Linked DNA regions of Homo sapiens: all the other regions are linked to region 3. The links come from fine-mapping of genetic effects on gene expression. A gene starts in region 3. Each other region holds a variant in brackets. All regions are shown on one strand. Distances are from middle to middle.

Region 1 (4,240 bases), 61 kb after region 3:
TTGAGGTGGGAGGATAGCCTGACGCCAGGAGTTCCAAGACCAGCCTGCACTATCTAGCAAGACCCCATTTCTACAAAAAATAAAATAGAAAGATCATCTAGGTGTGGTGGCGTGCACCTGCAGTCCTAGCTACATGGGAAGCTGAGGCAGGAGGATGGCTTGAGCCCAGAAGGTCAAGGTTGCAATAAGCCATGATTGGGCCACTGTACTCCAGCCTGGGTGACAGAGAGAGACCCTGTTTCTAAACAAGAATAACCATGATGATGATGATGATGATAATACGGACGCTCCAGTCTCTCAACTTCCTCCTTCCTGTCTGCCTGCCTCCTCCGCTTGGTCTTTACATGTCAGGAGTCCTCTCTTCTCACCTGGTATCTCTGGGTACCTCATCCTGGCTGGTGAGATTTTCCATATGCTGATGACTCTCAAAGTCCTATCACCATAAAACCCAAGGAGATTTAAAAAAAAAATCCTATCTACAGTCTGTATTTTCCAAACTTTCTAGTCCATTCAACCTCCCAATGAATTATTTTTACTCAGATGTCTCACAGGCCCTTCTCAGCACATTGGCAACCAACGTTTCCCAGACTGATTTCATGATTATTTCTCTCCAAAGCAGATGTTTATACTAGTTCTCACCCCAATAAATGATACTAACATCTTCCACGACCCCTTTCACCAAACTCCTATGTGGGTCTGTGATTAAATGTCCCTTGCTCAGGGAGGCCCTTGTGGAGACCCTTGGTCTACCTTAGGTTGCCTCCTGTTTTACCCTTTCAAAGCCTATTTTTCTTTCAGTCTTTTTTTGGCCGGGTGCAGTGGCTCACGAGGTTATCCCAGCACTTTGGGACGCTGAGGCAGGCAGATCATCTGAGGTCAGGAGTTGCTGACCAGCCTGGCCAACATGGTGAAACCCCATCTTTACTAAAAATACAAAAATCAGCCAGGCGTGGTGGTGAGCATCTATAGTCCCAGCTACTCAGGAGGCTGAGGCAGGAGAATCGCTTGAACTGGGGAGGCAGAGGCTGCAGTGAGCTGAGATCACGCCATTGCACTCCAGCCTGGGCGACAGAGCGAGACTCCATTTCAAAAAAAAAAAAAAAAAAGGTGGAAGGGGCTTGGCCTAGACCTCAGCATAAGCCACAGTCCTTGGCTTGGTTCTTCCCTTCCTACAGGTAAGACCCAATGAGTATTTTAACCACTACGATAACTCCACGTTTGTCCTTTGGACAAAAGAAACATCACTGTGTTGCTGAGAATCACAAGAATTTCAGTAGAATAGAATTTAATGGCAGTAAGAGCGACCAAGAGGAGTAAGCCAAGGTCTCTGCTGGTGCGTGCGCTCCTGTTCTGGCCACAGCTACAAAGCATGCACCGTGTGCTGTCCTTCATGGAAGACGCCTGTGTTACCCACCACAAACCAGCACCCTCCTCACCCTCAACCAAGGCCTTTAAGTGCCATCTATTTTAGGATCCTGGGGGGAGAACGCTGGGAGCTGTCAGTAGCTGCCCATTCTCTTCTGAGGGGGCACTGCTGTGTTCCCGGACTCTCTACAGACCTTACGTCCTATCACTGATAACTGAGCCACCTGGGGGATGGATGGTTGTGTGACCTGTCCCAAGTCGGAAAGCAAATCAGGAAGGAGCAGGATTAGAACGCATCTCTCATACTCCTGCATTCCACAGTAGAATGTATTACCCTCCATGTTTTTACGGTCAAAGCAGAACTTCTCTACTTCTCATCTATCTATTATTTCTTTTCATTTAGCCCTTCACGATCAGCAAATACCCATCTATTTATCTTCACCCTCATAAATTCCTTAGCAATCATAAACCATCCCAATTTCCACAAGCTGTTCATTCTGTTACCGTGTGAAGATGTAGTCAAGAGGTGTGACCCCAACAGGAAGACCAAGTAGAGTACCTTTCGGGTGATTGCATAGTGTCCTTTGAGCTCGTGCAGGGCCCACATGATGTCCTGACTACTGAGCACTTTGAAGTCGGCCATGAGGAGGTCAGCAGCTTGGATGAAGCAGTGCTGGTCAAGAGGAGTCAATTTAGAATAGTCAAAAAAGTCTTATTTTAGGCAA[C/T]TGAAACGAGACAGAAGCATAAAATCAAAGGCCAGGCAGTACATTTCCCATGTAGGGGAAATCATTTTAAGAATTTATGTGCAGAAAAGAATAACATTTGTTCTAATTACTCTATAAGGAAGTTACCAGCCCTATAAGAGAGATGAGAAAATGGTGGCTCAGAGAGGTTAAACAAACCTGTCTGGAGCCGGCAGACTAGTTTTACTAGTTATAACTAGTAAAGAAGTATAGTTGGGGATTTAAACCAATCTTACAGCCATCTTCTTTCCATACCATATTTACAAACAACTATTTTTTTTCTATTATAGAATACGTAAGAGAGATAGTCAAAGAATCTATGGGGAGTTGGAAGATCAAGCAACACATCTTAATAAAGTTAGTTCTCAACCATACTTTACCATGTAACAAACTAAATGCCAGTTTAGATCACAAATAATGACAATGATTAAAGTTTTTAAAAACCAAACTGTTTACATCTTGATATGAGATCTGGTTAAACAGATGTATAGGATACGCTGTATACAAATCTCACATCAAAAGAAAAAAGATATTCCACTCTGGGTAATGATCTGCATGCTGAAGTACTTACAGGGAAGTGTACTGATGTTTTTGCAATTTACTTTGAAATGCATTATCATGAAATGAAACATAACAAAGATGTGCTGATGGACAGACAGAGGACATATGTATGATAAAGAGGATACAGTAAACTGTTAACTTTTTAGTAGTACCAGTGGTAGGTATACAGGTGATCAACGTAAAATATTTCAATTTTTCTGTAGGTTTGAAAATTTTCATAATAAAATGTTAAGAGTTTTGGCCAATTCTTGTTTTGCTTTAGGAATTTGCTTTGTAGGATTACAGATATGGAGGATTCGTTCAATTCTTTGTGGGAAAAGGAAGATAAGAATTACAAGGAAAGATAGAAGTTAAAGACAGAATTCAAAGTGGCTCAGACTGGGAGATCGCACTGAAGTATAGATATATTCTGAAATCCTATGTCCCTCGGCTAGTCTTTAAAAACTTGTCCCAACAAAGCACCTTCTTCCCACAGAGATAACAACAACAACAACAACAACAACAACAAAGCACAGCATTTCCAGGCAGTGACTGCAAAACATGAACATGACACTTGCCTTTGTCTCATCTTGGCTGGCCAGCAGACTGCTACTGGGATTTATAATGATTCTGTCTTCTCTCTTTGGATAATCTGGGTTTTCCAGAAGAAAATTACAAAGTCTGCAGAAACAAATGATGTTACTTTCATACTGCTTCCAAATCCCACACCTGCCCATTGCTTCAAATGCAATGTCTGAAGAATATAGTCCTTAGTCACACGTTACAACTGGCCTATCAAGAAATTAAGATGTTTGTAGCCCAGAAAAACTAAACAAATAAACAAACAACTGCACTGAATTTCTATCTTTGTGAAAGATAAAAAATTTAAAAAGCAATGAACATACTGATTAAGGCAAACTCCTCTGAAGTTTATGTATCAATTGGGTGTTAATGTATTGAAGTCACTGAAACTATTATTGGTTAAACTACAAAATTGGAAAATTTGAAAGAAAAGTAGCTACTCTTTGTCAAGAAAACTATGAACAAGAAAGAAGTGGAAAACTGTGTGTTCACATTTACAGTAAAAACAGTCTGCTAAGAGATGTAATAAATAAATGAAATATAAAAGACCTTCTGTTAATTCATTAATACTTTTTATACCCCTGTGGTAACATAAATCTCTATGGTAATATAAAGCTCTATGAGCCATTGAGTTACACTTCATTTATTTAGCTAGCTGCTAAGCTAGACTGATGAACAGATCATGTTTTCCTATGAACAGACTCTCTTCACACCAAACCCACTAGCTTTGTCTATTATCAGCATGAAATACTTCCAAAGTAAGGCTATATAGAGTGAGATAACACACACTGATGTATCACCACCCAGACCCAACAGATGTTAACTATCCAGGCTCTTCACAGTCAAATCAGACAACCACCTTGGAACGACTGCACAGTAGTGCAGACAGAGTGGGTGGGGTACAGCTCTAGCCACATTCAGTAGCAAGGAAGCTTCTTTGCTCGGAGGGTAATGGGGACTTCCCCTTTTCTCTGTTCTTTCTCTTGCTCCAGTAGATTTCTAAGATGACC
Region 2 (4,240 bases), 21 kb before region 3:
TTTGTGATTTTAGAAAACTTTTATGGAAAGTTTAACACACATGCAGAAAAATACACATATCTTAAGTGCACAGCTCAAAACACACTCAAATACTTAGCACCTAGGTTTAGAAACAGATTATTCCCAGCACCAGATAAATGCCCCCTTTCAGCCTTGGCCAAGGCTAACTGCTACCCTAATTTTAAACCACGTATACAAGTTTTGCCCGTCTTTATAATTTATATAGAAGGAATCATACAGCATGTTGGCTTTTGTGTCTGGAGTCTTTCATTCAGCAAGGTTTGTTAAATTCAGCTGCGTTATTACACGGACTTCTAGTTCATTCATGCTCACTGTTTTACAGTATTCCATGGACATATGCCACTTCTTTATTCATTCCATTGCACATGTGCCTTAAGATAGTTCTGTTTTGTGCAGTTTTAGGCTATAAATATTCTAGTGCATGTCCTTTGGTGGACAGACACATGCATTTTTGCTGGGTTTGGGTAAAACAGTATACATATGCTTGGCTTTTAGTGCCAGCTTTCAAAATGGTTTTATCGATGAGCAATTCCACCAGTAGTGTACAGTTCCTCTTGCTTACATCCTTGCCAAAACGTGATGCTTTTTCATGCTTTTCATTTTAACCATTTCCATGGATGGGTAGCAGTGCTACATGTTTTAAGTTTGCATTTCCCTGATTACTAATAAAGCTAACACATCTTTTCATGCTTATTGGCCGTCTGGATATCCTCTAAAGTGAGTGGATATCCTCTAAAGTCTTTTGCCTTTTCCAGTTTCCCCCTTGTTGATTTGTAGGTGCTCTTTACATATTCGAGATCAGGGACCAGAAAACTATGAGTGCAGACCAAATCCAGACTGCCACCTGGGATTGTGAATGGTTTTACTGGGAAGCAGCCATGCTCATTTTTTTTTTAATGCATGGTGTATGGATGCTTTCACACAATAGCAAAGATGAGCAGTTGTGACAAAGCTGAAAATTTTCACCATCTGGTGCCTTGCTTTATAAAGTTTGCCAACACTTCTGCTATACTCGGTGCTGTTGTCACATACATGAACTGCAAATATCTTCTCCTCCCCATGATTTCCTGTTCATTTTCTTACTGGTGGTCTTTCTGATAAATAGAAGTTCTCAAATTTAATATTAAGTTCTAATTTTATGGGTTAATGCTTTTTGGGTCTCAATAAACCTTTGCTTACTCCAAGATTACAAACTGTCCTAAGATTTCTTTGTAAAGCTTTCACATTTCATATTCAGATCTGCAATCCACCTCCAAATAACTTTTTATCAAATTACAAAATTTTATTGGCAAAGTACATTTACTGGAAAGAACACCCTTTCCCCCACTACACTTCAATGTCACCTTTCTCAAAACTCAGGTGATGGTATACACGTGGGTCTACTTTTGAATCTGTATGCTGTTCCACTAGTCAGTTTTTTCATCCTTGTGCCAAATTAACACCTTCATTATTTCTATGGCTTTATAACAGGTCTTGATATTTAGAAATTTCAATCCTCTCTGTCCATTCTACAGGATAGCCTTGACAATTATTCGACTTTTGAATATGCATATGAATTCTAGAATTAGCTTGTTAATTTACATTAAAGAACTTGCTAGGATTTTAAGGTTGCAATGAATTTAGGAAAAAGCAATAGTTTTGAGATTGTCCTGGAATCCTATCCCTCTCCTCCTTTGTAATTTTATTTTCTGGATACAGTTCTTCAAAGCATATTAACTCATTTTCTCCCTCTAGGCACTTGAGGGATCTTTGAAGTGGCATTGCTTTTCAAAATTTCATTTTCCATGTTTTTTGCTGGTATATCATAAAATGCTTTTTGCATAACTTTTATGCAGGGAACTTACCAAATTTACTCATGGCATCTGCAAATAGAGATTTATATTCTTTTTCGTTTTTAAAGTTTTACTTCTTTTCTAATCTCTATGCCTTTTGTTTCTCTTCCTTGCATTAGTTTTCTGGTTAGGTCCTTCTGAACAATGCCGAATAAAATCATTGACAGCAGATATCCTTGTCTTATTTTTATAATCTTAGGAGAAATGTTCACTATTTCATCATTAAGCATATTGTTTGTTGTAGTTTAAGTCTCTTTATGCAGTTAAGTAAGTCCCTTTCAATCCATCATTTGCTAAGATCATAAACGAACATTAATTGTACCACAAGAATGTTCTGCATGCCAGATTACTTTTCTACAGGTGGTGTATAATAGCAACTGACTTGTGAATATTAAGCCACCTTTGCATTCCTGGAACACAATCTATTTGATTACCATTTTACCTTTTCCCAGAACAAGTCCATCTTTGTTTTGTTTACCCAGTATCAGGTCATATGACCACTATAAAACAAGTTACTGGCAAAGAGAATGAAATCATTATTATTTTGACTAATCAGGATTCCCCTGTGTCATGTGAAGAAGTGGTAGGTACCTAAACTGTTCCAGCAAGAAATGGAGCGAGGACATTAAGTTAATTGATCAAAAAATATCTGCTAGAAACTTGAATCAATTTGTTCTGAAATACTGGGAAAAAGGAGAATGCACAAAACAATGACACTGTATTTGT[A/G]CCAAACAGAAGTTTGTGAATAAAATTTCTAAATTACAAAATATTGGCACTAGGCACACTCAAACCTATGGGTTAAAAAACAAGGGTGGTGTGAGAGCTGGGGATATTTTAGAGTATGGGCAGTATGCTTGTTCTCTTTCACTGAAATAGACTTAAACAATTCCAAATTATGTATGTATAGTTTATCAAAATAGTCTTTTAGAAAATCTTATCTTACTCAGATGCAGTTGAAAACTTTACAAAACGACTGCCTCCTGTACTAATGAGGCATTTGTTAAAAACCCATTTGTAAATTCCTCTAAATAGAAAACTAGGTATTTTACCATTTTATACCTATTAAATATTATCTCACCAACAATATGTCCTGTCTTAATACATTTTGCCATCCTAATACTCAAATAAGAAAACTGCCTCTTCACAAGTCATCCAATTCCAAACTTGCATAGAATTACCATTAGATTGCATTTTTAAGACATGATAAAAAACGGCCATATACTTATTTAATGCTACTGTCCTCATGATCAACTCCTGACAATTTAAAAACTTCATTTTATACAATGAAGATTTATTCAGAGCTCATAGCCTCTGAGATCTTTCCTGTAAACACCTGATTTTCCATTAGAAATATGGCTTTTACAACAAATTTCCAAGACAATATATTTTCCACATTCACCATATTGACAGATTTTGCCTTTGTATGATTCCCTGATATGTAAATACAATTTGAATCCAAAATAAATATTAAATATTTATAAAACTTCACTCCTATATAAATTAGTGTCCGATGAGTCGTATGATCTTGCTGAAGGCTTTGCTTCTTGTTACATTCTTCGGGATTCTTCTCTGTGAAAATTTGGATTAAAATGACTCTAATGCCTAAATGCTTCTCACCGTTCAGGAACACGAACTCTCAGATAAACGCTTTGACTTCCTATTGGATTCCCCATATTCATTATATTCAGAGAGTTTTCTAAAAATTGAGATCTGACTTCAGAGATTTTCCACATCAAGTACGTTCATATTTCCTCTTCTATGAATTCTCTGATGGCTATTGAAGGCTGATCTGTGGTGGAATTTTTTCCCACACTCGTTACATTCATAGGGTTTCTCTCCTGAATGAGTTCTATAGTGTACAGTGAGGTATGACTTCTGAGAAAAGACTTTCCCACATTCATTACATTCATAGGGTTTCTCTCCTGAATGGCTTCTGTAGTGGACAGTGAGGTTTGACATCCGAGAGAAGACTTTTCCACATTTACTACATTCATAGGGTTTCTCTCCTGAATGAATTCGATGATGTATAGTGAGATATGATTTCTGAGAGAAGAATTTTCCACATTCGTAACATTCATAGGGTTTCTCGCCTGTGTGTACTCTTTGATGTCTGAAGAGGGATGAATTATGGGAAAAGGTTTTCCCACATTCGCTACATCCATAAGGTTTCTCTTCTGAATGACTTCTATAATGTTCAGTATAGTATGACAACTCATTGAATAACTTTCCACATACATTACATTCATAGGATTTCTCCCCTTTTGGAAGTGGCTGGTGCCCATCGAAGGCTGAATTTACAAGGAAGGTTTTCCCACATTCATTACATTCATAGGGTTTCTCTTCTAAATGAGCTGTATGATGGTCGGTGAGATACAACTGAGAGAACT
Region 3 (4,240 bases):
TGGTGAAACCCTGTCTCTTCTAAAAATACAAAAAATTAGTTGGGCATGGTGGCGCACGCCTGTAATCCCAGCTACTCGGGAGGCTGAGGCAGGAGAATCGCTTGAACCCAGGAGGTGGAGGTTGCAGTGAAGCGAGATCATGCCACTGCACTCCAGCCTGGGCAACAGAGCAAGACTCCATCTCAAAAAAAAAGAAAAAAAAAAAGGTAAGAATCCTTACAAACCTCTTAAAATGCATCATAAAATAAAGTTGAGGAACATATACACAAGCATGAAAACTCACCTGCAATGTGTTCATTTTCTGCTGCTCTTGGAAACGTGCAGAGACTGTGGCTGGTAGACCTAGAGGGGGAGAAGCAGGTCACTGAAGTCATGAGTGCTCTGGCCTGCAAAGGCAGGAATCTCCTGCGTAAGAACCACAAAAGAAAGCTCAATAGGCTAACACCCTGTGAACACTCAGCCTGCAAACACTCAGAAGGGCCTAAAAGAGTGATACAGGGTTTCGCCATGTTGGCCAGGCTGGTCTCGAATTCTGGCCTCAAGTGATCCGCCTTCCTTGGCCAATATGGCGAAACCCCATCTCTACTTAAAAATAACAAAAAAATTAGCCAGGCATAGTGTCACATGCCTGTAGTCCCAGCTACTCAGGAGGCTGAGGCACAAGAATCCTTTGAACCTGGGAGGTGGAGGTTGCAGTGAGCCGAGACCACACTGCTGCACTCCAGACTGGGTGAGAGACACTGTCTCAAAAAAAAAAAAAAAAAAAAAAAAAAGAGAGTGAAAAAGAGTGATAGGCGAAGCATGCACTTGTAACTTTGTAACTCTAAGATAATCAGGTAGTAATCAGATGAGTGAGACTCTCATGGGTAACATGACTCCTTTTACAAATAGTCTGCCATCATCAAATACAACCTGCAAAAAGAAAAAAAAAATTCCCATTATACAGCTCATGTTTTTTGTGGTTTGTCTGTTTGTTGAGACAGGGTCTCAATCTGCCACCCAGGCTGGAGTGCAGTGGTGCATTCACAGCTCACTGCAGCCTCGACCTCCTGGCCTCCATTGATCCTCCCACCTCAGCCTCCTGAGTAGCTGGGACCACAGGTGCATCCCAGCATGCCTGGCTACTTTTGTATTTTTTGTAGAGTCAGGGTCTCCCTATGTTGCCTAGGCTGGTCTCTAACTCCTGGTCTCAAGGGATACTCTTGCCTTAGCCCCCGCAAAGTGCTGGGATTACAGGTGTGAGCCACTGCATCCGGCCCGCATTTTCTTATTGTCTCTTTAAACTGCTTAAAATCAAAGAAGCCATAGGAATTGAGTATGTGAGCTCTCAGAAATGAAATGAATGTGTATAAAATATGGTTTTGTTTCTAAATTATCTAACTGAACTTGGTTATTGCTGCACCTAATAATCTTCTATTAAGAAAACTAGGATACGGGAGAAAGAACACTGGCCTGGGAGATAAGACTCCTGAGTTCTACTATGAGCAACTCTACCCACAAAGCCAGTGACCCGGTCAAGTCACCCACCTGCTAAGGCCCAGTCTCTTCCCCTAGCAACTGAGGCAGCAAGAGAGAATCCCTGCAGACTGTTCCTGCATTACTACCAGTCTCCAGGGCAGATCTAAGGGGGGAATCAGCAGACACTTAAATGAGAGAACAGAGGCGCTGACGGACGTTTAGAGGAGGTCGAAATCTGGAGCACGGAAAGGAGGAGGAAGGGCTGTTAGGGGTTAGCGGGGAGTGGAGACGACGTCCGCAGCTGAGGCTGGTGACACCCTCCAGGCCCCCATAAGCCTCGTCCTCCCAGATTTCCCATGCAGCGCCTGTTCGGTGCAGCCGGACCCTGCCCTCAAACCCAAACACACGTCTCTCCTGCAAGCGATCGAGACCCTCCCCCTGCCCCACACTCTAAGGTCCCCAACACACGGTGACTTCACTCAGGCCCTTCTCGCTCCGGGCCCGAAAACCCAAGACCTACCCTTCTGGGGCTCCGCAGCCTCTGCCCCACGGCTCCCGAGAGGCCGGGGCGGGGCTGCTGTCGCTGGCGCGCGTCTGCTCGCGAGGTCCCCTCCTGTCCACCTCACTAAGGTTGTTCTGCTCCCGAGGGGCCCGGGCCGGGCCTAAGGGGCAAATCCAGGCGGGTGTCCTTCCCGGGACCCAGATCCGCCTCCCTCGGGCTCACCGTACAGCGGCAGCCTGGGCCAGGCCGCCAGGACACACACGGGCCAGGCCCGCGTCCCGCCGCCCCTTCGCCTCCGCCGCCACCTCCGCCACCTCCCGTCCGGCCCCTCTGGCCCCAGCGCCGCCGGCTCCGGGGCTCAAGCTCGGGGGTCCCCGCTCAAGCCTCCACCCGGCCCGCGCGAACCCTGGCCTGCACACCCCCGCGCCCGCCTAGGTGCTGGCCCGGGCGCTCAACCTCCAGCCCCGCAGGCTCCGCGATTCTCGTCCACTGGAGGCCAAAGCCTGGGAACTAGAGCAAGCGGTGACCTGAGGACGCACAGGAAGCGAGGGCAGTGCAGCGGCGGCGCGCATGCGCGAACACGCACACAGAGAGAGGTGCACACGCGCAGGAGTGCACCGGAAGTCAGCCTCCGGGGCCCACAGCTGGTCCCAGGACAAGCACCCTACTCTATTTCCCATGAGCCTACGCGCCCCCCAAGTTTAGGGGCCGTTTTAAATGTCTCTACCCTGCCTAAAGGTTAAGAAGCTCCAGGCTATGAGCTTTGGGAGCTCTGAACCCCTGATTGAACTTCGCATTTGTCTTTACTCCCTTTTAGGGTCAAGTCCAGGGCTGCCTGACTGGGTCCTGGAGCCCAAGGCCTCTGGGTTAGAACCGAGTTTCCCATAAAGAGAAGGAAAGGAAAGGGTGTATCGTGGTCACTGCGCTGAAATGCTAAGAGAAGTTTCACTCAAATACTAGGACAGGATAAATGCCCAGCGATGCTTTCCAAGGAAGAGAAAGAAAATAGAATTTGTGGCTGGGCGCGGTGGCTCACGCCTATAAATCCCAGCACTTTGGGAGGCCGAGGCGGGCGGATCGCGAGGTCAAGAGATAGAGACCATCCTGGCCAACATGGTGAAATCCCTTCTCTACCAAAAATACAAAAATTAGCTGGGAGTAGTGGCGTGTGCCTGTAATCCCAGCTACTCGGGGGCTGAGGCAGGAGAATAGTTTGAACTCGGGAGGTGGAGGTTGCAGTGAGCCGAGATCGCGCCCCTGGACTCCAGCCTGGCGACGGAGCGAGACTCTGTAGCTTTTCTAGATCACACAGCGAATGCCTAAAAACTGTAGAGAAATCAGGAAATACACAGATCGAACGAAGAAAAGAGATACCTGTGATCTCACCTTCCCCAGGAGGATTATGTTTAGGGTTAGGTTATGTTGACCAAAAAGACTCAAAGTCTGTCAAGAGTTTTATTCTGGGCCTCCTACTTGAGTGACCATGGCTGGTGACACAGCCTCAGGGGGTCCTGAGAACGTGAGCCCAAAGTGGTTGGGTTACAGCTTGGTTTTATACATCTTAGGGAGACAGCAGTTACAGGCAAAGACATAAATCAATACATGAGAGGTACACATTGGGTCAGCCTGGAAAGGCTTTCAGGTCACTAGCAGATTCAAAGATTGGCAGTTGGTTCAGAGTTAAGCGTTGGCTGAACAGTTGGAAAACGACATGAAGAAATGGGCCATTGCGGTGGCTCATGCCTGTGATCCCAGCATTTTGGGAGGGTGAGCTGGGAGGATCCCTTGAGGCCAGGAGTTGAAGGACAGCCTGGGCAACACAGCGAGACCCCCACCTCTACAAAAAAAAAAATTATCCAGGTGTGGTGGTGCATGCCTGTAGTCCCAGCTACTCAGGAGGCTGAGATGGGAGGATTGCTTGAGCCTGGGAAGTTGAGGCTACAGTGAGCCATGATGGTGCCACTGCACTCCAGCTTGGGCAACAGAGAAGAAAAGAAAGAGAGAAAGAGAGGGAGGAAAAGAGAGAGAGGAAGGAGGGAAGGAAGGAAAAGAAAGAGGGAGGGAAAGAAAAGAAAAGCTTGAGTTAAGATAAGGGGCATTGTGGAAACCAAGGTTCTTGTTATGTAGATGAAGCCTCAGAACAGGCTTCAGAGAGAATAGATGATAAATATCTCTTATTGGATCTTAAAAGGTGTCAGAATCTCCAGAAAAGACTTCTTTTCTGTAAGGGAAGGAGATTCTCTACAGAATGCAAATTTCCCCCAAAGAGATGGCTTTGCA

Which allele goes with the higher level. Positions count from the first base shown, and alleles are read on the strand shown. Sizes are in standard deviations (SD) of each study's normalised expression. Not every link is listed here.
For the expression in nucleus accumbens of the gene that starts at base 2,515 in region 3, allele C in region 1 goes with a lower level than allele T (large effect, 1.3 SD a copy in GTEx).

What was found. PIP is the estimated chance that this variant, and not a neighbour inherited with it, causes the effect.
Region 1: its variant is the best candidate, but not a certain one, in a credible set for the expression of RBAK in nucleus accumbens (GTEx, PIP 0.53).
Region 2: its variant is the best candidate, but not a certain one, in a credible set for the expression of RBAK in whole blood (TOPMed, PIP 0.54).

Annotation. Positions count from the first base shown.
Region 1 is chr7:4,982,760-4,986,999 of GRCh38, reverse strand. It overlaps the pseudogene RNF216P1. Among named protein-coding and RNA genes, the nearest start is that of MMD2, 26 kb to the right of the region's middle. The variant C/T (reference allele first, on the strand shown) is at 2,091.
Region 2 is chr7:5,064,931-5,069,170 of GRCh38, reverse strand. The region is part of intron 4 of RBAK-RBAKDN (RBAK-RBAKDN readthrough); the gene reads right to left. RBAK (RB associated KRAB zinc finger) reads right to left here. Exons shown (of 5, transcript NM_021163.4): 5 at 1-4,240. The coding sequence ends at 3,570. Among named protein-coding and RNA genes, the nearest start is that of RBAKDN, 5.0 kb to the left of the region's middle. The variant A/G (reference allele first, on the strand shown) is at 2,580.
Region 3 is chr7:5,044,135-5,048,374 of GRCh38, reverse strand. It overlaps RBAK (RB associated KRAB zinc finger), which reads right to left and starts at 2,515. Exons shown (of 5, transcript NM_021163.4): 1 at 1,979-2,515; 2 at 284-342. The coding sequence starts at 298. It overlaps RBAK-RBAKDN (RBAK-RBAKDN readthrough), which reads right to left and starts at 2,515. Exons shown (of 6, transcript NM_001204513.3): 1 at 2,417-2,515; 2 at 284-342. The coding sequence starts at 298. RefSeq lists an enhancer at 1,906-2,015 and a silencer at 2,166-2,375.